Homo sapiens: one gene and its partners. The protein of the gene in region 3 purifies or fractionates together with the protein of the main gene of each other region. This does not show direct contact. Each region holds a gene or a part of one and is shown on either strand. Other genes may lie near its edges.

What was found.
Region 1: the proteins of RABGAP1L (region 3) and MLF1 purify together in Homo sapiens (affinity purification with mass spectrometry; 2 studies listed by BioGRID and IntAct, with this or other methods). This does not show direct contact.
Region 2: the proteins of RABGAP1L (region 3) and PXDC1 purify together in Homo sapiens (affinity purification with mass spectrometry; 2 studies listed by BioGRID and IntAct, with this or other methods). This does not show direct contact.
Region 4: the proteins of RABGAP1L (region 3) and TRO purify together in Homo sapiens (affinity purification with mass spectrometry; 2 studies listed by BioGRID and IntAct, with this or other methods). This does not show direct contact.

The regions. Positions count from the first base shown.
Region 1 is NC_000003.12:158,602,167-158,606,962, reverse strand, and holds the end of MLF1 (myeloid leukemia factor 1), read right to left. Parts: intron 4,157-4,796; coding exon 4,024-4,156; intron 1,867-4,023; coding exon 1,761-1,866; 3' UTR 1,015-1,760; coding exon of another isoform or gene 993-1,014; 3' UTR 507-992; downstream 1-506. UniProt on the Homo sapiens protein: Involved in lineage commitment of primary hemopoietic progenitors by restricting erythroid formation and enhancing myeloid formation.
Region 2 is NC_000006.12:3,748,686-3,755,584, forward strand, and holds the start of PXDC1 (PX domain-containing protein 1), read right to left. Parts: upstream 3,029-6,899; 5' UTR 2,847-3,028; coding exon 2,591-2,846; intron 1-2,590.
Region 3 is NC_000001.11:174,162,500-174,169,532, reverse strand, and holds part of RABGAP1L (rab GTPase-activating protein 1-like), read right to left. Parts: intron 1-7,033. UniProt on the Homo sapiens protein: GTP-hydrolysis activating protein (GAP) for small GTPase RAB22A, converting active RAB22A-GTP to the inactive form RAB22A-GDP. Plays a role in endocytosis and intracellular protein transport.
Region 4 is NC_000023.11:54,916,433-54,923,848, reverse strand, and holds the start of TRO (trophinin), read right to left. Parts: upstream 3,026-7,416; 5' UTR 2,971-3,025; exon of another isoform or gene 2,884-2,970; intron 2,862-2,883; exon of another isoform or gene 2,381-2,861; intron 1,647-2,380; 5' UTR 1,603-1,646; coding exon 1,558-1,602; intron 1,272-1,557; coding exon 81-1,271; intron 1-80. UniProt on the Homo sapiens protein: Could be involved with bystin and tastin in a cell adhesion molecule complex that mediates an initial attachment of the blastocyst to uterine epithelial cells at the time of the embryo implantation. Directly responsible for homophilic cell adhesion.

The DNA of each region.
Region 1 (4,796 bases), on a different chromosome or scaffold from region 3:
TGCGCCCGGCATGTATATAGTTTTAAATAGTTTCAATTTACAGACTAACAGTATTAAACACCCATCATAAGAAGTTGTTGCAAACAAATATTATTCTGGGGTATAGATATCGATAGTTATGTTTTTATGGTGCAAAGATAGAGTTGACTTTTAAGAAAGAAACAGAACTTTTCTCGGTACTACCATCTCAAATTCTGCCTCACCACAATCTCTAACTGCAATCTGATGTACAGGAATTATACTGTTAAACACAATTATTTATTAAAGGGTGTTTTTAGATTTGACTACAATGATTCAAGTTATCATCAGTGTAATGATTTAGGCAAAAGGAAAATCAAGTATGTACTTTATTAAGACTTTGCTCTATCAGGTTAATTTATATCAAGATGTTATTTAAAATGTGTGCCTTATGACAATTTCCCAATGTGTTATGGTATGTTAGGAGTATACTAAAGTATGCCTAAAAGGAAATTTTTAACTAATACATGCTCAATTTCAACAATGAATTAACACATTTGCATTTTATTTTAATGACTAAAGGCATAAAACACAAACTAGTAAAATTAACAAAAATATTATATAAAAAATTAGAGAAGTATGAACATAGTCATATAATTTTACTTACAAAATTGAAAAGAAAAATACTTAGGATTATAGAGTGATAGCAATTTTTGGGGGCTTTTTTCCTTGACAGAAATATTAAACAACAAATGTGAGTTAAGATTTTATATTCTTATAAACTTCAAACCTAACTTTTATAAGAACAGACTGATGCTTAAATTCTAGAATTAAAAAGCTAAAGCTGATTTTTAATGGTATAATTAAAACAGAAACAACTGAATTATTAAGACGTTGCTCAAAAACACCCATCAGCTGTCTAACAGATTTTGAGACAATGTATCATTCTGGTTTGGAGAATACCAAATGCATTTTTCTAAATGTCACAAAAAAGCTGAGCAGAGTTTCTCCAAGGACTCTCCAGCTTCAGAATGTTAACCTTGGAGACAGATGAAGCTGTTTGTGGGAAAGGAGAGTAGAAATATGCCACATTAAGAAGTTAAAGAGAATGGTCAATATAATATCTGGTGAATATTAAGAATGTAATATAGAAAAGATACATTCTATAAATAAATTATAACCAAAACAATCATGTACATTAGCAATTTAAAATATTTTTCTCTGAAAATGAACTATTTGATTATCCTTGCCCTTTATCAAAATAGTAACTATTTTCTCATAAAAGAGTACTAGTGTAGTTTTGCTTTATTATTTTTAAAGTTTTAAGCTAGTTGGCTTTACAACACATTATAAAATTAGAGATAAATTATTTAAACCTTTATTAATATCACCCTAGTACAGTGTTAGTAAAAACTGAGACTTTTTTAACATTATAATTTCTTATAACTAATTATAAGTGATAGAACTGCTCTGCAATCAATCTTGATAAATATAAAAGAATATTTAGCCAACACAAAAACAACTGGGGAAGCGAAATAAGCATATAAGCTTTAAAAAATTAGTATGTTTTAAAGAGTTTTACATTAAATAGACTCAATTTACTCACATTGTTGAAAATCAAAATTTTATTCCTAAAAGAGGGACAATATAAAGCTAGGACCTTCATGAACATTCAGATATCAGAAGAAAGTTGCCAAGGACAGAACTGATTTAACAGCAAGAGATTGGTCTTATGCTTATTACCCAGCACCATTACTAACTGTTAAAACAATCAAAACTAAACAAATCAAATGCATGGCTATTTATTTTTTGTTGCTTTTCACAGATGAGCCTTTGATGTGGAGTTTGTCCCCCAAAACATTTGATCTCCTTCCATGTTCAATGGCTGGACTTTGTTGAGGTTTCTCCCTGAGAAATATACATGTGAATATTAATATCATTTAAAAAATGGCCAATGGTTTATAAATCAATACAAACATGTTAAAAACCACTGTAATATAAGAAAAGTTTTATCTTAAAAATTCCTTAATGGCTTTGAAAAACAAGGCTGGCCAGGTGCGGTGGCTCATGCCTGTAATCCCGGCACTTTGGGAGGCTGAGGCAGGCAGATCACAAGTTAAGAGATCGAGACCATCCTGGCCAACATGATGAAACCCCATCTCTACTAAAAATACAAAGATTAGCTGGGCGTGGTGATGCGCGCCTGTAGTCCCAGCTACTCAGGAGGCTGAAGCAGGAGGATTGCCTGAACCTGGGAGGTGGAGGTTGCAGTGAGTTGAGATCGCGCCACTGCACTCCAGCCTGGCGACAGAGCCAGACTCTGTACCCCCTGCCCTAAAACAAAAAATAAAAAACAAAAAAAACCAGAAAATAAGGCAGACTATTTCAGTGAATTTAAGACAGCAACAGCTGTTTTCCTGTTAGATTTAACTGTTTATAGTTTAAACACTGTTTAATGTTAACAGTATGGTAGTCACTAACCACATTTATATTTGAATTAAAATAAAATAATTCAGTTCTTCAGTTGTACCAGCAATGCTTCAAATGTGAATCAACAGCCACATGTGGCTAGTGATTACTACACTGGACAGAATAGATATATAGCATTTTTGTCATTACCGAAGTCATTTCAGAAAATGCCATTGGACAGTGCCGGTTAAGAGAAAATGCCACTGTTAGGGCCAGAAATTTATAGGTCATCCATAAAGAGCATGCCTTCTCTAAGTGCGACCTGGATTTCCTATTCAAACTTGGCACTGCCAGGTTTTTAATCAATACATTTTTCAAATGAGACAAATATCTATAATGAATATGGGAGCAAGTTTTCAAGCAATTCAATAGAAAATACTAGGGCTCTAAATTCCTAAACAAGTATTTTAGAAGAAAAGATCCTAGCATATGAAATTCTGCATAAGGCTTCTGATTTACTTGATACTCACTTGTCCACTGCTAGTTCTGTGAAGGCTTCCACCTTCTGTAGCAATTTTCCACTTTCTTATAGCTTAGAACAGATTTCTATTTAAGGTCTGGTGAGGCCTTTGAGTGTAACTTCATAGGAATTAGATATTATTATCCATTTATTCCTCTGAGAACCACATTAAACTGTAGCTCCAGAGTATGTACAAAATGTATTTAAAAACTCTATAATATTTATTTATTTATTTTTGAGATGGAGTCTTGCTCTGTCACTCAGGCTGTAGTGCAGTGGTGTGATTTTGGCTCACCACAACCTCTGCCTCCCAGGTTCAAGCAATTCTCCTGCCTTAGCCTCCCAAGTAGCTGGGATTACAGGGTGTGTGCTACCACACCTAGCTAATTTTTGTATTTTTAGTAGAGACGGGGTTTCACCATGTTGGCCAGGCTGGTATCGAACTCCTGACCGCAACTGATCCACCTGCCTCGGCCTCCGGAAGTGCTGGGATTACAGGTATGAGCCACCATGTCCAGACAGAAATCTCTATAATCTTTAATATGTGGTTTCAGCAAATTTATTTTTCTCAGCTATTCTAAAAGGGAATTCTAAAAGAAGCTAATGTTCTTGCAAAATTCTTCCAAAATATCTAATACACATCGAATATGGTATTGCATGTACTGTTACATATTATACAAGTGTCTGAAATTTACTATTAAATGCTAAATTTTGATTTGTTAAGAAAGTTGTTAAGTCTTCCAAATAGAGCCCCTCTCCCCTTATCATATCTCTAGATATCTTTACCAGTGTGAAATGTATGACTCTATCTATATCCATATTACAATGTGTTTTACAAGAATAACTACACTACAGGATATCAGTTTTCCTTAAGAGGATTTTGGTCTCTGTCTTCTGAGGCATAGTTTACTAGTGAATTACTAACCATAAAATCCTAAACTATTATTGATTTTTAGATATAAATTTAAATTTGTGTGGAATAATCAGCTTTCATATAAAATTATTACATCTTTCACAAAAGATACTGTGGATACAATTTGGATGATCATCAAAACTTTCTGATAACAGAAGTAAATTACATAACTTTACTTCAAATTCTTCTTAAAAAACCAAACTATTTTAGAAACAACTTTTACCTTCTTTTAAGTTCTCGGGAGCCAGGATTCTCATGGCCAACACTTCTCATTCTAGTGTTTCCTAGATTGTGTCGTCCTGGTTTGTACTTCAAAACCTCACTTTGCCACTCCTCATCAAAAGCATGAGCATCACCTATGTCAAACAGAAAAATAATGGGAATAAGTATTAAGGTATCAACTGTCAGTAACTGCCTTGCTCCCACATATTTCAGTCTAGTCTGGTGTTTTCATTAGTGTAACCTCAATACAGAGGCAGGAAGCTGCTTCAAATATAAGGGTCTTTGACAAAAGTAGTATTTGTTTTCCTGTCTGTTCCTCTCCTATTCCTACTGATGATCTAGTTATTGATGATCTATTTTTTCAACTGCCTGGATAACATATTATTCTACCCAATGGACCAGCTGACCTAATTATATTAACTAACAGTTTTTCTTCCTGGGTCATCTCACAGTGAATATACTCTTCCTGTATAGTGTATACTTCTGTGGCTAGCACTTCTATTCACCTAACCATCTTTCTGTGTAACTTGACCTCACAAGTTTCTGTTGTCAATTTCCTAAGACAGGTTACTCAGCTAGAATGTCAATTCATGTTGTTATGAAGTAATCTAACTTCCATAATAGCAACAATAGAGACATGATAGTACTTCTTAAGACTGCTTTAAAATATTATGTTCCTTCACTCAATTTTTCATCAAAATGTTGATTATTGTGAAATACTCAGTATATATATAAATGTGATAAAATTACAGAGGTTACAAATAAACACAGGTC
Region 2 (6,899 bases), on a different chromosome or scaffold from region 3:
CCACACCCTCCAAGGGTGTGCAGACACTTCCAAGAGTCACCAGCCCACTGCCAGCAGAAGCTCAGAAATCCAGATTTCCTCACAAATCTCTTAAATGGAACTAGAGAATGCAAATCTAACCCGTCCCAGAAACAGTTCAATCCATGTAAACTGGGGAATGTGATAGGGAATGATGCAGAGAAAAGCCGGCATTGCAGCACAGCAAAGCACACACATCTGGCTGCCTTTTGTGTTTATAGTTTGTATATCCAGATAATCTTTTTATGCAAACAATAAATCTGCATGGAAATAAGGTGCAATCTGCTTTTACATTACTGGGATATATTTTACTTGGCAAACAATTTCCCTGGACTTAAAAGGATCAAAGAAAGGGAAAGGACTTCCCTGGCGCTGCACAACAAAACTCAGGTGGTGCTGGGCAGGGACCAACTAACTGCCCCTCAGAAAACCAAGGACTAGAATGAAGGCAGGGCTTATGGTCCCGGTTCTGGTCCCAGGCTCCCCTCTTCACCCCCTCCAGGGTGTGCCAGACTGTCCCCAGCAGAGAGAGCAGCTCCAACAGTTCCACGGTGTGCTGTGAGAAAGTCCTTTACACCCAGCCGCTGGACCTCACACTCACCGCCCACCAGCCCTGCCACCATCATTCTGACCCCTATTTCTGATTTCTGTTCCCCTTGAGGTACTTGGAGGTAGCTATCATATCCCTTCTGAGCCTTTTCTCCACGGTAATCGCTCGCGTCTTCAACCTTTCTTCACTCTTTTGAGCCACTCCTGCGTGTCCACACAGCTTGTGACCGCGTAACAGACCCAGCACAACTAGGGCGACAGCAAAAGAGGCGGAGCCAGGGTGTGTGCAGGGCACGCCCCTCCCTCCTGCTCCAGGTGAGGTATTTCCACCAGCGTGGATGCAACTGAAACCACGCCCTCTTTCCACCGTCTGGCCCAACCCCAGCCAGAAGCAGCTGATGGGACGGTAACAATGACAACTGGCATTTATGGAGAACCTGCTCTTGTTAGACCCTCTACCATGCCTTTCAGTCCTCACAAACGTCAGAGACCACAAGCACAAAGTTACAGGTGGGGAGCCCCACGGGGATCCCGCTCCAACCAGCCTGCCTGGGGTCACGGAGCTCAGACGCCTGACCACAGTGAAGCTCAGGGACTCCAGTGTATTTAAGCCTCGTTCCAGGAAAGGTCATTGAATAAACCGCTGTTCCTTCACGATGCTTTCCTGATTTGGGCATTGATTTGTTAAATTTAAAATATCATAACAAACAGCAAATCCAAGGAAAACTGCTTCCATGCTTGAAATAACACCCAACTGTCTGGAGAACAGCTATAAATGTGAGGCTCTGGGGAGCAGAGGGAGGCCTGAAAGGCGGGCCTTCTCGCTCAGGGCCCCAACTCGCTGGCTGTGGGAGCCCTTCCAAAAGATGTGTCATGAGAACTAAGCTAATTATCCACGTAATTCTCACACTGGGGTTGGGGCCATCGCCAGGGGAAAGCACAGGTTATCTCAAGAACGCAGCCAGATAGGAGGCTGGGGAGACTTGGACGGGCCACCTTCTGCTTCAGTAACTTGGCCCCAAGCTTTCAGGAGGTCTCTGCTTAGAGGAGGACTGCAGAAAAGAAGGCTGCTGGGCCACTGTCCCAATGTTCCGAGCTACAGGTGGTCACCCATGGAGGGGGGTGGGACCTGCTCGGAAGTCCTCCAGTCTTCCCGCCCCTTCTCCCCTCCCGGCCCTCCCAGGCGGCCCCTCTCCTCGGCCTGCCCCCTCCACCCCGCAATTCTTCCCGTCTCAATTCCAGTCCCTCTCTCTTGCGTCCTCCCGGCTTCCACCCCCTCAGCCTGGCCTCCAAAAGAAAGATCGGGCAGAGCGGTAGGAAAAGGGAAGCCACCGCGGTTTCTGAAAACAAGAATTCCCGCGAGCCAGGACGGTCACGAGGCCGGGGAGGAGGCGGCGCAGCTGATCAAACGCGAATGGGGACCAGCCCTGGCGGGGGTGCGGGGGGGCCCTGGCTGTCCGCGGCAGCCGCGGGCGGGGCGGCCGCTCCGAGGAGGGACGGAAGGGCTGCGTGGCACCTCGCGCTCGAAGACCAGGGGCGCGCCCTCCGCGGGGAGAACTCGGGGCGGCGGCCAGACCCGACGCGACCCCCGGCTCGGACCCTGCAGTTAACTGCTCCCAGACGCTTTCCCAGTGCGCCCGCCCGCCGGCCCTCGGGAGGTACCGGGCAGGGGGCTAGGGCCGGGCCGACCCTGTGAGCCGCTCAGCCCCGGGCGCCCCCGCCCTCCTCGGAAGTGACTCGTCCTCAGGGAGAGTCCGGCGCCCGCCCTGCCGGCCTCGGCCCCTTTCCCGCCCCATTTGGCTCCTCCGCCGGGGGCGCCCCCAGGCTGGGCAGGCTGGCTCCCCGTCCCCCTAACCCCGCCGCCCGGGCACCCCTCGTCTGCGGGCGCGGGGTCCAAGTGTCCCCTGTCCAGGGCGGGCAGAAAGGAGAAGTCGCAATCTCGGTTGAAGTCTCTTCCCCGCCTCCTTCGTGCACTTCAAGGCTGCCTCGGCCCCGCGCCCCTCCCGCGTCCCCGGCCCCGCACCTTGCCGCAGCGGCCCCTGCGCCAGTTCGGACCGGTCCTCGGGAAAGGCGTCGCGCAGGCGCTGCCACAGGCGGCCCAGGTCCGCCAGGCTGCGGTGCAGGTAGAGCACGCTGCGGTCCGACCACTCCGTGCGGATCTCGAAGAACTCCTCTTCGTCGCCGCGCCGGCTGACGATGAGCCTGCGGATGCCGTTCACCCAGCAGCCGCGCACGAACATGTTCACGAGCGACGTGCCCTCAAACACCGCCGAGGCCATGTCGCACGCATGCCCCCGCCAAGGGCTCCCCAGCCCCGCCGCCCGCCCGCCCGCAGGAGGCGCGCCCCGGCCGGGGTCGTCCCGGGTCTGTCCGTGGCCGGGGTCGTCCGGGGTCGGCCCGTCACTCCAAGGAGGCTGCGTATGGCCCGCGTTCGGGGCAGCGGGGCGGCGCGGCGGCGAGTGGCTCGGGCCGGCCGGGCGCGGCTTTATAAGGCGCTTCCCATCGCGGGCGGCGCGGTAGTCGACGTCGAGGTTAGGCCGCGTCCGCCTCCCGCCCGCCTCCCGCGGAACGGGCGCCGCGGGCCGCTCTGGAAAGGAAGAGGTCCGGCTGGCCGCGCCCCCGCCGCCTCCGCAGAGACCGCGCTGCCGCGGCCACGAGAACCCCCGGAGCCGGGAGCCGGGCCGAGTCCCAAGCGCTCGCCCCCGCCTCGCGCCCCCCGCGCCTCCTCCCTCGCGGCCCCGGAGCCGCAGGTCGGTGACTGGACCAGCCGGGAAGGGAGGCGGGGCGGGCCCTGCTTGCCAGGCGCTCGGCGCAGACTTTTTTCTCTTTCCGTTTCGCGATCCTCGGGACCTCCCAGGGCTAGGAGCTGCGCGCCCCACCCGGCCCGCGAGGGGATGGCAACTACCCGGGGTCCGGAGGCGGGGCTGCGAGTGTCGGGGCGGGGGGCGCGGGCCGGGTCGAGCACCGCCCCGACGAGGGCCCAGGCCAGTCCGGCCCGCCCCGGGTTCCCTCCGTGCCTCAGGTCCCCTCCGTGCCCCGCGTCCTCCCGCGCATTCCGGTCATGCCTCAGCCGCGCCAAGGCCTGGGACACGGCCGGACAGACCGCGGGGCAGCCCTCGGAGAAGTGGGAAGAGGGGAGAAAACAGTGGCGAAAAGAAGGTCTCCTGGGAAGGAGCGCCCTGGGAAGCTGGACGCGGTGGGTGCTCTTGAGGGGCCTCAGGAGTGGACTTGGGGAAACCGCCCGCCCTGAAAACTGACTCAGCGGCGCGTTACTGAGGCCGTTCCTAGTTGGAAGAGAATTAATAGCACTTGTTTGAGAATTACAAGTTAGTTCCAGAAATGAATCGAGTGACCTCACAGCCCGTAGGCAGGGGTGGGAGAGCCAGGGTGAGCCCCTCACCTCACCCCGCCCCCGCCCCGGCAGCGCTCTGGAAAGCCTCAAAGCCCAGCGCTGCGCGGAAATGTTAGAGGCCCAAGGCAGGTGGCCTGTCTGGACTCAGACCCGACCCAGATGTCCCCCCAGGTCCCTACCACTCAGTCCCACCTGCCTCGACTCAGTCCCGACCCAGATGACCACCCCCCCCCCGCCCCCACCACGACCAACTTTTATTCCGACTGCGCCAGTGACTTGCAGATAGCATAGCTTCAAATTTCCTCACCTGGTCTGGGGCGGTGAACAGGTCAAGATGGAGAGTGTCAAGAGAGACTTTTGCTTTGTCTATGATGTTTTTATATACACTTGCTAATTAAATGAACGCATATGTTTCCTGTGTAATTTTGTATAGGGGAATAGGGGCCGTGGGAACTGGAAGTAAACAGCCAGTGTGCCAGCAGCTCTTGACTCTAGGTGGTGGGAATAAGTGCCGTTGTAACCACAGTACCAGCCCAAACGGGGCTTACTCTGTTTGTAACAATGTTGAGTTACCTTGCAGGTATAACAGAGCCAAAAACTCTTAAGTCACAAAGCCCAGGCATGCACCATAGAAAAAGATTTGATCTCTAACAAACATCCAGAACCAACTATTCGTCTCCTTGGAACGAAGAAGACTGGGACATGACTGGAACCCGAACATTCGAACTCTCAGAAGGGAAGGGTCTCTTGGCCCAGAAGATAGGGGCTAAAATCCACCTCAACATACCGTACCATAAATGGCCAAATTTGAAGGCCTTCAAACAGATCCTGCCCAGCCAACATTTCTAAGTCCTTTCCTTTGCCCTCTGCTTCCTTAGAACTTGCCCCAGACCCCAAATCAGGGAGGAAGATTTGAACCTGCCTCCTGTCTCCTTGCTGGCTGGTCTTGCAATAAAGTCTTTCTTTTCTCAAAGGCAGTACCATGGTATTGCTTCCGTGTACATTGAGCAGTGAGCCTGAGGCAGGAAAATAGGGTCAGGAGGCAGGGAACATAAGGCCAATTCACACTTCGGCTGTAACAGGAAATATCCACTCCATAGGGCGTATGCTGTAAGTGACTTTGTAACTTTACTTCATCCTCTGCATTTACGTAGAGGGTAAGTGAAGTAAACAATGGAATCATCTAGGGGATATTTAAACTTCCAAAAATTCTGTAACGGGGCCTTTGAGCCCCTATGTTCGGGCCGCTCCCACACTGTGGAATGTAATTTCGTTTTCAATAAATCCCTTCATTCCTTCCTTGCTTTGTTTGTGCGTTTTGTCCAATTCTTTGTTCAAGATGCCAAGAACCTGGACATCCTCCACCGGTGACAAGCCCATTTGCTTAATAAGATTATTATTTTCTTCTCAGTATTTTTCTGTTACTTATTTTCTGAAAGTGCCAGGAAGAGGAGGGCAGGCAGGACCACCCCAAAACAGGCCACCTGTGGTATCATGGTGACCTCTAACCCCAGCCCCCAAGAATATGAAAGTGATGACGACTCTTATGAAGTGTTGGATTTAACTGAGTATGCAAGAAGACATCAGCGGTGGAATTGAGTGTTTGGCCCCAGTTGGAGACCTATGGTGTTACAGAGAAATACTCAGTAGCTACCCAGATTGGAATGTGTGGCGTGACAGGCTGGTATGCAGGATTTTTGCTCCCAAAAGTTGGGAAGGTTGCAGCAACTGCAGTGACTTCCAGATTGACTGGAAGAGAATTGAAAGAGACGTACATAAAGCAAAAAGACATACTAAGGCCCGGGCGTGGTGGCTCATGTCTGTAATCCCAGCACTTTGGGAGGCCGAGGCGTGTGGATCACCAAGTCAGGAGATCGAGACCATCCTGGCCAGCATGGTGAAACTCCATCTCTACTGAAACTACAAAAATTAGCTGGGCGTGGTGGTGGGCGCCTGTAATCCCAGCTACTTGGGAGGCTGAGGCAGGCGAATCGCTTGAACCCAGGAGGCAGAAGTTGCAATGAGCCGAGATCACGCCACTGCAATCCAGCCTGATGACAGAGCAAGACTGCATCTCAAAAAAGAAAAAAAAAAAAAAAGACAGACTAAGAAATGAGCAAATAAAGCAGCACCTGAAATCAACAATACAGTTGAAGAAGCAACTGACTTTATCAAACAGAACATTGTGATATCCACTGAATTTGTGGGAGGCTTTTTGCTAAGACTTGCATTTTAAAGACATGAATGGTCTACCATAGTAGACAGCTATGAGAAGTGGCGGCAACACAGTGTCCTCTCTCAACAGTACATGCTGCCGGATCTCAGAAAAACAACTAGCTGGACAATACTGAACTCACAACTTAGCATTTTGCCATCTGGAGCCTGGCAAACTGGTATTTGCTGTAAAACAACTTATGTGGTATGTGAACAGTAGTAGTTCTGAGCAAAACGTGGCTTTTATCATTTAAAAAAAAATGCTTCTCTTTAGAATTAGCTTATAAAATATCACCATTGGTTGTAGATATGGAGAGAAAAGAAACTGCTACATTTATTGCCTGGTGAAATATTAATCCCTTTTCATTTAAATAAGATGTTCTGGCTTGGCGCGGTGGCTCACACCTGTAATCCCAACACTTTGGGAGGCCAAGGAGGGAGAATCACCTGAGGTCAGGAGTTCAAAATCAGCCTGGCCAACATGGTGAAACCCTGTCTCTACTAAAAATACAAAACAATGAGCTGAGCGTGGTGGAGGGTGCCTGTAATCCCAGCTACTCAGGAGGCTAAGGCACAAGAATCACTTGAACCCAGGAGTCAGAGGTTGCAATGAGCTGAGGTTGCGCCACTGCACTCCAGCCTGGGTGACAGAGTGAGACGCTGTCTCAATAAATAAATAAGATGTTCTTCATTGTGGTTTACAGTATAATGACAATAATTTTAAAATCTGTATTATAGCTTCAATATTAGGACTGACTTTTTTTTA
Region 3 (7,033 bases):
AAAACTTTATCTGGGCCAGGCACAGTCACTCACGCCTGTAATCCCAGCACTTTGGGAGGCCAAGGCTGGCAGATCACGAGTTCAGGAGTTTGAGACCAGCCTGGCCAACATAGTGAAAATACTACTAAAAATACAACAATTAACCAGACATGATGGCACGTGCCTGTGGTCCCAGCTACTCAGGAGGCTGAGGCAGGAGAATTGCTTGAACCTGGGAGGCAGAGGTCAGAGGCTGCAGTGAGCCAAGATCATGCCACTGCACTCCAGCCTGGGCGACAGAGCAAGACTCCGTGTCAAAAAAAAAAAACACCTTTATATTTTCAAATGGTAGGGATGGCTAATTTATTGTGTGTGATACCAACTGCAACAGGAGAAACCTGTTTCATCTATCAAAGCTATTGATAATGTTGACAAGAACTATAAAATGCATGTCAGAATGTTTTTTAACTTAAGAGGCCTACATTATCATATGTAAAATAACTCAGAAACAGAAAGTCAAATGCCGCATGTTCTCACTTATATGTGACAGCTAAACAATGGGTACACATGGACATACAGAATGGTGGATATTCAGGTGATGGGTATACTAAAAGCCCAGACTTCACCACATCTATACATGTAAGAATCTATACATGTAAGAAATCTGCACTTGTACCCCATAAATATTTTTTTAACTTTTAATTTTTTAAACTTAAGAGGCCTAGCCTCAGTGAAAATTTAAGCTGCATAATTCATGCTGAAAAATTTTCTATGTTCATTAGTGTTGGCAAAAAGGTCACCCTAGGATTTGAATAACAGTAATATTTAATTTCATTTCCCCATTAACTTTGCCAGGAATCTCACACTAGTGTTAAGGTAACTTCTAGAATACAGAAGGAAAAAAGGAATGGAGAGAAGAAGACATTAACTGAATTACCATTCAATACCAACTTGATCATGCAACTTGGTAATAGATCTTTGCGCAGACAACAGCAAATCAAAACATTAGTCCAAATATGACCACTGACTTCAGGGCAAATATGAGAGATTTAAAATGAAAGAATACAGTTCATGAGATTTAAAAAAAAATGGAAAAAAGCAATAATAAATGAATGAGGTCTGGTGATAAAACAGCTGCTCAATAACAAAATTATTCTAAAACAACTTCAGAAACCCTACTGTCTGCCAATATATATATAACCTCCCTTCAATGGTTGATTTTTCAATGGTCAATTTTTCACTAAAGTAGTATACTCTATTCAATTTTTTTTTTTTTTTTTTTTTTTTTTGAGACCGAGTCTCACTCTGTAGCTCAGGCTGGAGTGCAGTGGCACGATCTTGGCTCACTGCAACCTCCATCTCCCAGGTTCAAGGGATTCTTGTGCCTCAGCCTCCCAAGTAGCTGGGACTACAGGCACACACCACCACATTCGGCTAATTTTTGTATTTTTAGCAGAGGTGGGGTTTCACCATCTTGGCCAGGCTAGGCTCAAACTCCTAGCCTCAAGTGATCTGCCTGCCTTGGCCTCCTAAAGTGCTGGGATTACAGGTGTGGGCCACCACCCCCGGCCATCAATGTATGCAAGATAAATTGACTACAGAAAAATAAACTATTCAAAGAAACACCTAATAACCATTCTAACAACTATTCCTTTATACAATGCTCTCAGCAAAAGGCCTCACAATGACAATTACGACATCTTGAAGCACAGAAAACACTCCATGTAGTTTATAAAAAAAACTAGTGATATGTGTCTCTTAAACCTTCATAACTCAAAACCACAGGTTTGTATTTTTTCTAAAAATAATATTTATTTGCATCACTTGTAGTAGAAGTCTGATTCTTAAAGTCTTCTAATTTTGCTTACTGCTAATAATGAGAATGGTAAACGGGTGTATGTGTGGGGTAAAGGAGAAGTTGAGAAATTCCTCACTGGTATATGAATGAATTCCATACTTGCCTTTTAAAATGTGCTCCTTTCTTGAAATTGGGCATACAAAAACTCCCTTTGGGTTTGCATTACTTTCATATTTGTGAATACTCACATGGTAGTCTTCAAAGAGCTAGAACACTTGTTTTCAACCATTTGCCAGGTGGGTGTATTTTCACCACAAATTCCAAGAACTAATGATATGTAAATATATATGTATGTATGTCTACACATACATATATGCACACTATGTGTATGCGTGTATATCTTTACAAATGTTTACATAATTTAATTAAGGGCACCATCATTATACTTTTTACCACACACACAAAAAAAATGGTGGCAGAAAATCTGGAAAGATTCTAATAACCTCAATTCGTGAAAACTAACATGCCTCAAAAAAGAGGGGGAAAAAACTTTAACAGAAACACTGTGCTGACATGATTAGCTTTATCATTTAACTGGTGTGAGGCATCTGGGCCATGCCATATTTGAACTCTTATCGTGGTGTTTGGGGTGTGCTATATTGTGGAACAGGTCACATGAAACTGCTGACACCTTCTAAAATGGTAGGACAACATTTACATATTAGGAGCTTACATAACTGAAGAAAATCGTGTGGCAATGACACAATTCATATTTATTTTAGAACCACGGCTCATCTCAAAAACTCTTTATCAACTATCCAGAAGTAGCCCAGCTTTTTACCAACCAAGTAGTTATTTACTATAGCAACTTCTTTACCAACATTTCCAAAATTTTCCACACACTTCCATGATGAGCTATTAAGCAGTCTCTGTATGTGTTGTTACCTGGGCAACACTCTAAGAAGGCTTTTACCTTTACAGAACTGGTGGGTCAAAGAGAAGCAAGGCTTCTTCAAATCGACTACACACTATTTAATTAGAAGCAGTAAGTGTGAAATCATCAGCAGACAGAAAAGCTTGAGAACTGCCACCAGTACTTCAACTTGATTAACAGACACAACTTACTGGCATTTATACCTTCATTTCTAGCTACCCAATTCCCCTGTGAAACAAGGCAAGTTCCATCCAAGACTTCAAAACATCTTCAGTCATACAGGCTGTCAAAGACATAAATGCTGAAATCTAAGAAAATTCTTGGAATAAAGAAGCCATCAATTCCTTACAAGTGGATTTTGTATAAAATACCCTGCTTTGCTGCCCTAAATTCTAAAAGCTACTCAGCTTAGCTGCAGATCTGTATAAACTACCCTTCTGCCTGAACTAAACCTGCCTCCAAAAATTAAGATCCAGTCATTTAGAAATCACATTTTAGAAGGCCCTTGTAAAGACTTTCAAAACTGCTTCCTGTTCTACTACAGCCAATTTGACGCTAATGAAGAAAAACAAAAAACAAACAAAAAAAAAACACTGTCTCTCCTTACAAATAAAATATTTTTCACTTTCCAACACTTTTAGGATTGGTAAACTCAAGGTTGCTTCTCTAACACTAATAATTTTTCCCTTCAGCTTCTACTCTAAGGATACTTATGTGCTCTCTGGATCATATTTTAATCATAACATATAAATCCTGTTCAATGTTAAGAAGTACTAGATTACTCCAGAGTCAAAAATGAAAGATAAACTGAAAAGCAGAAAGGAAAACTGGCATTCTAGGCTCTTAACCATCTGGTGCTAACGGACTCTTTCTTGCCTAGCTCTTTCACTACTCATTTTTCCCTGTCTATGCTTGTATGCCTTTGATCACCCTGGCCCCTGGCCCAGAAAGGCCTTTCTCTCATACTAGTTGTCCTATTTCCACATGTCCAAATCCTACCCATTCTTCAAAGCATAGTTCAGGGGCCGGGCGTGGTGGCTCACAACTGTAATCCCAGCACTTTGGGAGGCCGAGGCAGGAGGACAGTTTCAGTCCAGAAGTTCAAGAACAGCCTGGGCAACATAATGAGACCCCGTCTCTACAAGTAATGAAAAATTAGCCAAGCATGTTGGTGTGTGCCTATATAGTCCCAGCCACTTGGGGGCTGAGGCAGAAGAACTGTTAGAGGCCAGGAAATCAAGGATGCAGTGAGCTGTGATGGCACCACAGCACTCAGTTTGAGTAACGGGAGTGAGATGCTGTCTCCAAATTAAAAAAAAAAAAAAAAGTAGTTCAAATGTCACCTCTTCTTTTATCCTTAAAACTAAAAGTAGACCGGGCACGGTGGCTCACGCCTGTAATCCCAGCACTTTGGGAGGCTGAGGCGGATGGATCACCTGAGGTCAGAAGTTCAAAACCAGCCGGGCCAACATGGCGAAACCCCGTCTGTACTAAAAATACAAAAATTAGCCTGGTGTGGCAGTTGGCGCCTGTAATCCCAGCTACTCAGGGAGGCTGACGCAGGAGAATCACTTGAACCTGGGAGGCAGAGGTTGCAGTGAGCCGAGATTGTACCACTGTACTCCAGCCTGGGTCAAAAACGAAAAACAAACAAACAAACAAAAATAAAAGTAATCTCTCCCTCCTCTCTAAACTCTTATAGTTCCTTATCTTTATCTTTTTACCACCCATTACTTTCTGCCTTTCATTATCACTGTTGTTTCCATATTTAATCCCCCACCTAAGCATAAAGTCCTCAGGGTCAAGGTCCATCTTTATTCAAACTGATTAACACAATCCCTTATACACACTAAGTGAGGTTAGGAAAGAAGCCCACCAGAAACAACTCCAGATTGAGTCCAGAGCCCTGGCTTTGCTAATAACTCACTATCTGACCTTGGCCTTGAGGCTCTTAGTATGTTCCTTCACTTACAAAGTTAAGAGGGTAGGCTAAACTAGTTGTATTTGTTGTTAAATGTAGGCTATAATCCATTAGCTGGGTGTAAAATTAATTTGGAAGTCAAAACCCAGCATTTTTAAAATGAAATGAAATAACAGAATATATCAATGTGTGTTATAAGCAGTGGGGTGCTATAAATGTTTAACAACTACCTATGAGGAGGGAAGCCCTAAGAATACCATTTGCTGAATTTCCTGGTGTAAATATTCCCACCATGACCAATTTTGAGCTACCAACATGATGTCACTGGACAAAGAGCTAGATAGGAAGAAATATGCACAACTGGTCTTGCAAGCCATTATAGCTAACTCAGTAGGGCCCTGAAAAGATAAATATTATTTCACCAAACTTTCAACTTTGTGTGTGTGTGCGCTTGCGGAATCAAGTAGTAAAATGTATTTTTTATTGTGGGTCACAGTCAAATGAGTTTAATAAATGTTCAGGTAAACAATCTCCTGGTGTCCTTCATGTATACTACATAATTTGATAAATCTTACTCTTGGTTACAGATGTCTCTTCACCACAATTCATATTTTTCTTCAAAAATGGGAGTAACAAACTGATATCACCAGAAGGCAAATTACACAGAGCAGGAATTTGGTTTATGGAATATCAGCCAAGTGCCAAGGTTTTTAGCATTTGTTCAGCCCTACATACCTGAAGGATATAACACACTCCTACTATCAATGGCTCACTTAGCAATGGGTTGGGGGGCAGGTAGGGGGTAAGAGGAGGAAATCCATAGTATAAAAAAAAAATCCAGATAATTCTAGTATTTGTGCTCATGTTCCCACCCCACTGAATACCCAGATACACAGAAAATTAGAGCAGTAAAAAGTAAATGTTCCATGCCTGATGTTTCCCAATCAAATTCCCTTGCATCCCTCAATGAGACTTCCATTACTAAGAATCACCTACTGGAACTAAGCTTTTACCATGGACTAGGGATGCATAGTTCTTGCTGAATTTAGAACAGGCAACAGGGAAAATAACACAGCAAACAGTTGTTAGGCTTCATATTCTGGGAAAATCAGCCTTTTATTAAAAAAAAAAACTGTCTTATTTTCCTCTTATTTAAGCTTACTAAACTGGGTGAGAATTTTCTTAAATATATTTTTGGCTGTACTATGTCTATCACAACACAGCCTGTAACCAGATTTTTCATGAGTATTTATAAAGAATTGTGTTGTTGTTGGGTTTTTTTTTTTTTTAAGCCCAACAGCACTGGCAAATGTTTTCTACTTTAAAAGCTATTTAGAAAATAAGAAGGCTCAGAATTTCAAGTATACTAATAATCTTAGCCCAAATCTAACTCTAAATCAACTGAATATATGCCTAGAACTTTCCCAGGAAAATCCCCAAAAAGTACACCAAAAAACACCAAAAGATAACAAAAAAGAGTTAGCATGCGCATAAACTTCGTATACCCAATTATGCCATCCCATCTGTTGAATAAGAGCAATATGGGAAGTAAACGAAGTATAAAAAGAAGATGTTCAGAGATGCAAGCTCTTCTTAATTCATTAACTCTTCCTTATTAGGGTCCACTGATGTTCACATACTTATACCCAATTCAAATACTGACTATAAAGTCAAAATTATTTCCCGTTCTGAAAGTCTAGGAGTCAAACAATGTCTTTCTCTATAATATCAGCATTAAAACTCTCCTTTAAAAATGAGTATGTTTTACCATAACTCAGGCTCAAGTCCGTACTTTCTCCGCCTCCACTGTTTGTAATGGCAAAATGCTCATCAGATCATCTCCACAAGAAACCCCTGAGCCATCTTTGAAATACCAGCACCTGGTGCGCTGCACCCACTAACTCATCATCTAGCATTAGGTATATCTCCCAATGCTATCCCTCCCCCCTCCCCCCTCCCCACCACAGTCCCCAGAGTGTGATATTCCCCTTCCTGTGTCCATGTGATCTCATTGTTCAATTCCCAGCATGGCACATGTATACATATGTAACTAACCTGCACAATGTGCACATGTACCCTAAAACTTAAAGTATAATTAAAAAAAAAAAAAAAAAAAAAAAAAACAGAAAGAGAAAAAAAAAAAAAAAGAAATACCAGCACCTGGAATAGCCTTGGGCTGCTGGTCATCCTCAGACTCAACGGCTGACCCATTTATATAAGTCAAGAGTTATAAAAATATAGAACTCATTAAAATTAAGACATAAGCAAGCTCTGTGCCTGGGAATCCCATAGGCTTACAGCAACAACTTCATTCTCCAAACCCCCTCTAACCAGTCATAATGATCCATACCCCACTTGAAGACAATGGTAGGTTGGAATGCAGGCCCACTTCTACACCTTC
Region 4 (7,416 bases), on a different chromosome or scaffold from region 3:
TATAGAAGAAATGAACAAACTAGAAGGGTAGAAATGGAAAAGAAGCACAAAGTTAAGGATGGCAATGTCAGAGATCTCACCTTTCGGTTTCTTTTGCCCCGGGTCCTGGTTGTGGGCTCCAGGCTCAACTGAGCCAGATAGTCATCTGCCAGGGCCTGGACAGCAGCAGCAACCTGAGTCTCAAGGGCACTTACGTTGGTCTGAGCAGAGGCTATCTTGGCCTGGGCCCCTTGGTCAGCATTTGGAGTCTGGCTTTCAGTTGCCCGAGCCTTAGTGGCAGCCTTCCGAGCCCTAGACCCTCTCTTGACCCGCAGGGTGGCTGCCAGGGCTTGGTTTGTGACTATCTGAGTGGCAAGTGGGGCCTCAGAGATCTCAGAGACAGAATTTGGGCCCCTGCTGGCAGCCTTCTTGCCCTTGGATTTTTTGGGCCTGATAGCCACTACTGAGGCCTCAATCTGCCTGGTAGCTGCGTCAGTGACATTTAGAGCCTCTATATGCTCAGTGTCAGTATTTATGACCTTAGCAATTGTCTTCCTGGCTTTGGAGGCTTTCTTGGTTCGGATGGAGGCTGCTGTGGTGTGGATACTGGCTGTCTCATTGGTAATTTGGCCTTGGGTGGTAGCTGTATGGGTGGCAGTTGCAGCCAGCGAGACCTCGGTGGCACTAGCTATGGCCTTATTTGCAGCCTTCTTAGCCTTGGAAGCTTTCTTAGGCTTGATAGAGGTTATCAAGGCTTGGGAACTGGCTGACTCATTGGCAATTGGAGCGTGAATATTCTGTGAGATGACTGGTAGCTTTAGGACCTGCAAGGGTGACTTCAGCTGTATAGTGCCACCCTCATGGCCAGTTGGGGATTGGGAGCCTTGGGCTGCCTTGGCAGTAACTCTCTTCATCTTGTTGGCTTTCTTAGGCTGAGCAGTGACTGAAGAAGCCTGAGTATTGGTTACCTCAGTGGTAGGTAAAGCCTGGCTGATCTGGGTAATGACTGGCAGGTTTAAAGCCTGCCAAGTTATTTTGGGCTTGTTGGTGGCAATCTCATTGGCAGCTGGGACTGGAGGGGCAGCAGGTGCAGCCTTAGTAATAGTCTTTATAGGGGCCTTCTTGGTCTTGCTTTTCTTAGGCCGGTTGACAACTGGTGGGTCCATGGCCAGGGAGTCCTTGGTTGCCGCCAACAGGGTATGCATCAGCAGGACACTGTCCTCTTCTGTGGTCTCAGTCTGTATATCTGGAGGGAAGGGAAGCCCCAGGCTCCCCGGGGGAGGCAGAGGGCCCTACACACTTAGGATTACCATCCTCTGGGCCATTTGGCCTCGCTAAAGCCCATCCCTTTCCACAAAGGCCTTCCCTTCCTCTGAGCAGTGGTTAATTAAAATGGGGTAGGGAGCAAGGAAGGAATAGAGTCAGGCAGGTTTTCCTCTCCTCTCCTTCACCATGTAAGGGAGGACTGAGACGAGTTAGGCAGGGAATTATGAAACTACACGGTGGAAGGGGTCTGAAGAGCAGTAAGTGAACTCAGGATGGGGCAGATGGCCTAGAGAGAATGCAGAGAGGCCTCACCTGAAATAGAGGCACCCTATATCCGTAGTCATTTCTCCTATCCATCTTTCTGGGAGGCCGAGTAACAGGTGAGCCTGAGGGGAATGGGCCTGAGTTAGAGAATGAGAGGGAGGGGGAGATTCATCAGACATCTCACCTATCCTGACTTAGGGGAGTCTCATGTAACCTTGGGCCCTAATCCCTTCAACTCCTGGGTTTTCATACCTAAAAAACCCAGGCCATCTGGTTTCCAAGGCCCAGCTCCTTTTGCCTCCGAGAGAGTCAGTTCTACGACCCCACCCCTTTACACGCCCCCTCCGCAACTCGATAGTGCGCATGCGCACCGACTAGAGGCGCCCCCACCCCCCATCTTAGGCCCACCTCTATCCCAAAAGAACCATTCTTCAATGCCCTCCGCGCGCATGCGCCTTGGTAAACCGGACAGTTTCTAACCAGCTCAATCCCACATCTGCCCCCTGCTCTCAGAGCAACAGAACATCTTGGCGCCACCCCGACCCACTCTTTCTAACTGCATCACATCTCGATCCAACCCTTCCCCCAACACTAGCCCCCTCCCTCCGCTCTGCAGTACCACTCCGCACCGCCCCTACCCCAACACCGCCCATCTCTCCTCTGCGGTACTGCCACGCACCGCCCCTTCCCAATACACCCCCCTCCCTCCGCTCTGCAGCATTTCTCTTCATCTTCCCTTCCTTTAATAAGCCCCCTCCCTCCGCTCTGCGGTACGTCTCTGCACCACCCCTTCCCCAACCAACACCACTCCCCCCTCTTTCCACGTCTGCAAGTGTGCAGCTCCGCCCTTTCTGCAACATGAATACCTCACCCCCAAATCCAACTGTATGAACCTTCTGTGTATTCCTGTTCTCAAACCCTACCAGGTCCTGTCTCTTCCCTTTCAAACCGGAACCAACCGGGTCATATCCCCTCCTTTCTCCTGTCTGAGTCTGGTCCTTTCCGTTGCTCAAAAGGGATGCTGCCCACTCTTATCTCTGGGTCCCGATCCCTCCATTCTGTGGCCCAAACGGGGTACTGCCCCCTTTCTCCAGCCTAAACGGAGTCCTGCCGTCTCCTATCTCCCTCCCGAACTGTGTGTATCCTCCTCCCCTCTTGCTACCGTCTGAAGGATTTCTCGATCCTTCCTTTCTGCGGTCCCAACTAGGTCTGCATCCCTCCCTTTCACGGCCCGAACCGAGTCCAGATCGTTACTTTCTGTGGCCCAAAGGGGATTCTGCCTCCTACTTCCTCCCGTGCGAACTGGGTCCAGGCACCGCTAAAGGCGACTTTGATGCGGTTAGGTCCCAAACCTCCAGCAGGTTTTCTTCAAACCTTAGGGGCGTGTGGAGTCAGGCACGTCGAAGCCGCAGCCAGGAAGCCCCCACAGGGTCTTCACTAAAGCCAGGTACCTCAGCTCACCTCGTCTTCTTGAATCCAGAAGGCGTCTGCTCTCTCCAAGCCTCTCCTTGTGTCTGAGCCTATCCCCCTCCCTGGCCGGAAGTGGTCCTGCCTCTTTCCGCCTCCAGAGGGGGGTCTCCGTTCCTGCCTGTCAGTCTCCTCCCCTCCATACCTACTTTCAACTTTCCATTCTCCTCAATGTAGCTCCCTTTTTCTTCTTACTACCCCTATTCAGTTATCACTCCCTCTTATTCTCCATTTGACTTCTCTATTCCCCACTCTGTATCTCCGTTCCTATTTGATTCTCCTGTTTCCCCTAGGAGGAATGTAGTTCTCTGAACTCCCACACCAACCCTTCCTACAGACCCTCTATCCCAACACTATTTACATAGTGTTGTTATACCTTGTGTCTATGTCTCTCTTCCCTAGAGCTGCTCTGGAGCAGGGGACTAGGTCATATTCATTTCTGTTTTTCAAGTGTTACCACATTAAAACATTTAGAGGTTCTAAACACTAAAAGATAGGGTGCCCGTCCATCTTATGCAATTCAGAATAAAAACAGTAATGTATAAAAATCTATGAAAAGTTTTTATTGATCCCACAATGACTATATTGATGTTTTAACAATATCAGTTTGTACTTAGACTGTCTCTTGTGACATGGTGCACTGTGCCCCCATGCAGAAAACAATTCATGACATTTATCTATTCCATCAATCATTCAAAAGAGAGCAAGGATAACTACACATATGTCAAATAAAATAGACTTAAAGTCAAAAACCATAAAAGATCTTAAAGGTCATTATATAATGATAATGAGATAAATTCATCGTGAATATCGAATAATTATAAACATATTTAATATATGCACCCAACATAGAAGCACCTAAATATATAAAACAAATATTAATAGATCTGAAGGGAGAAGTAGACTGCAATACAATAATGGTAGGAGACTTCAAGACCCCATCTTCAACAATTCACAGATCATCCAGACAGAAAATCGATAGGGAAACATTGAACTTGAAATACACTTTAGACAAAAAGGACCTACGGAATATTTTATCCAATAGAATATATAATATTCTCAAGCACACATAGAAAATTCTCCAGGATAGATCATAAGTTAGGCCAAAAACAAGTCTTTTTTATTTTATTTTATTATTATTCTACTTTAAGTTTTAGGGTACATGTGCACAATGTGCAGGTTAGTTACATATGTATACATGTGCCATGCTGGGGTGCTGCACCCATTAACTCGTCATTTAGCATTAGGTATATCTCCTAATGCTATCCCTCCCCCCTCCCCCCACCCCACAACAGTCCCCAGAGTGTGATGTTCCCCTTCCTGTGTCCATGTGTTCTCATTGTTCAATTCCCACCTATGAGTGAGAATATGCGGTGTTTGGTTTTTTGTCCTTGCAGTAGTTTACTGAGAATGATGATTTCCAATTTCATCCATGACCCTACAAAGGACATGAACTCATCATTTTTATGGCTGCATAGTATTCCATGGTGTATATGTGCCACATTTTCTTAATCCAGTCTATCGTTGTTGGACATTCGGGTTGGTTCCAAGTCTCTGCTATTGTGAATAATGCCGCAATAAACATATGTGTGCGTGTGTCTTTATAGCAGCATGATTTATAGTCCTTTGGGTGTATACCCAGTAATAGGATGCCTGGGTCAAATGGTATTTCTAGTTCTAGATCCCTGAGGAATCACCACACTGACTTCCACAATGGTTGAACTAGTTTCCAGTCCCACCAACAGTGTAAAAGTGTTCCTATTTCTCCACATCCTCTCCAGCACCTGTTGTTTCCTGACTTTTTAATGATTGCCACTCTAACTGGTGTGAGATGGTATCTCATTGTGGTTTTGATTTGCCTTTCTCTGACGGCCAGTGATGGTGAGCATTTTTTCATGTGTTTTTTGGCTGCATAAATGTCTTCTTTTGAGAAGTGTCTATTCATGTCCTTCACCTACTTTTTGATGGGGTTGTTTGTTTTTTTCTTGTCAATTTGTTTGAGTTCATTGTAGATTCTGGATGTTAGCCCTTTGTCTGATGAGTAGGTTGCAAAAATTTTCTCCCAGTCTGTAAGTTGCCTGTTCACTCTGATGGTAGTTTCTTTTGCTGTGCAGAAGCTCTTGAGTTAAATTAGATCCCACTTGTCAATTTTGGCTTTTGTTGCCATTGCTTTTGGTGTTTTAGACATGAAGTCCTTGCCCATGCCTATGTCCTGAATGGTAATGCCTAGGTTTTCTTCTAGGGTTTTTATGGTTTTAGGTCTAACGTTTAAGTCTTTCATCCATCTTGAATTAATTTTTGTATAAGGTGTAAGGAAGGGATCCAGTTTCAGCTTTCTACATATGGCTAGCCAGTTTTCCCAGCACCGTTTATTAAATAGGGAATCCTTTCCCCATTGCTTGTTTTTCTCAGGTTTGTCAAAGATCAGATAGTTGTAGATATGCGGCATTATTTCTGAGGGCTCTGTTCTGTTCCATTGATCTGTATCTCTGTTTTGGTACTAGTACCATGCTGTTTTGGTTACTCTAGCCTTGTAGTATAGTTTGAAGTCAGGTAGCGAGATGCCCCCAGCTTTGTTCTTTTGGCTTAGGATTGACTTGGTGATGCGGGCTCTTTTTTGGTTCCATATGAACTTTAAAGTAGTTTTTCCAATTCTGTGAAGAAAGTCATTGGTAGCTTGATGGGGATGACATTGAATCTATAAATTACCTTGGGCAGTATGGCCATTTTCACGATATTGATTCTTCCTAGCCATGAGCATGGAATGTTCTTCCATTTCTTTGTATCCTCTTTTATTTCATTGAGCAGTGGTTTGTAGTTCTCCTTGAAGAGGTCCTTCACATCCCTTGTAAGTTGGATTCCTAGGTATTTTATTCTCTTTGAAGCAATTGTGAATAGGAGTTCACTCATGATTTGGCTCTCTGTTTGTCTGTTATTGGTGTATAAGAATGCTTGTGATTTTTGTACATTGATTTTGTATCCTGAGACTTTGCTGAAGTTGCTTATCAGCTTAAGGAGATTTTGAGCTGAGACAATGGGGTTTTCTAGATATACAGTCATGTCATCTGCAAACAGGGACAATTTGACTTCCTCTTTTCCTAATTGAATACCCTTTATTTCCTTCTCCTGCCTAATTGCCCTGGCCAGAACTTCCAACACTATGTTGAATAGGAGTGGTGAGAGAGGGCATCCCTGTCTTGTGCCAGTTTTCAAAGGGAATGCTTCCAGTTTTTGCCCATTCAGTATGATATTGGCTGTGGGTTTGTCATAGATAGCTCTTATTATTTTGATACATCCCATCAATACCTAATTTATTGAGAGTTTTTAGCATGAAGGTTGTTGAATTTTTTCAAAGTGACAGACAAAAACAAGTCTTAACAAATTTAAGAATATTGAAATCACATCAAGTAATATATGCACAGTGGTATGGAACTAGAAATCATTAATGATAAGAATTGTGGAACATTCATAAATATATGGAAATCAAAAAACATATTCCAGAATAACCAATACGTCAAGGAAGAAATTAAAGGGAAAATTTAAAATATCTTGAGACAAGCGAAAATGTATATACAACATACTAAAACTTATAGAATGCAGCAAAAGCACTTCTAAGAACGAAGTTTATAGCAATAAATACATACATCAAAAAGAAAAAAGATCCCAAACAATCTAACATCACACTTCAAGGAACTGGAAAAAAAAGAACAAATAAGCTCAAAATTAGTAGAAAAAAGGAAATAATAAAGATCAGAGCAGAAGTAAATGAAGTAGAGATTAGAGAAACAATAGGAAAAAAATCAGTGAAACCAAGAGTTGGTTTTATGAAAAGATAAATAAGATTGACAAGCCCTTAGCTAGATCAACTAAGAAAAAACAAGAGAAGACTCAAAATCAGAAATGAAAGAGGAGACATTACAATTAATACCACAGAAAAGCAAAAGATTTTAAGAGAATACTAAGAACAATTATATGCCAGGAAATTGGATAACCTAGAAGAAATGGATACATTCCTAGACACATAAAACCTACCAAGACTTAAGCTTGAAGAAATAGAAAATCTAAACAGATATGTAATGGGAAAGGAGACTAAATCAGTGATAAAAGTCTCTCATCAAAGAAAATCTCCAGACCTGGTGGATCCACTGCTGAATTTTACCAAACATTTAAAGAGGAATGAATATCAATCCTTTTCAAATTCTACCAATACATTGAAGAGAAAGAAACACTTCCAAAGTCATTTTACAGAACCAGAATTACCCTGACACCAAAACCAGACAAAGACACTAGAAGAAAAGAAAATTACAGACCAGTATCCCTGAGGAACATAGATGCAAACTCCTCAGCAAAATACTAGCAAACCAAATTCAACACCATATTAAAAAGATCGTTCATCATGATCAAGTGTGATTTATCCCAAGGATGCAAGGATGGTTCAAC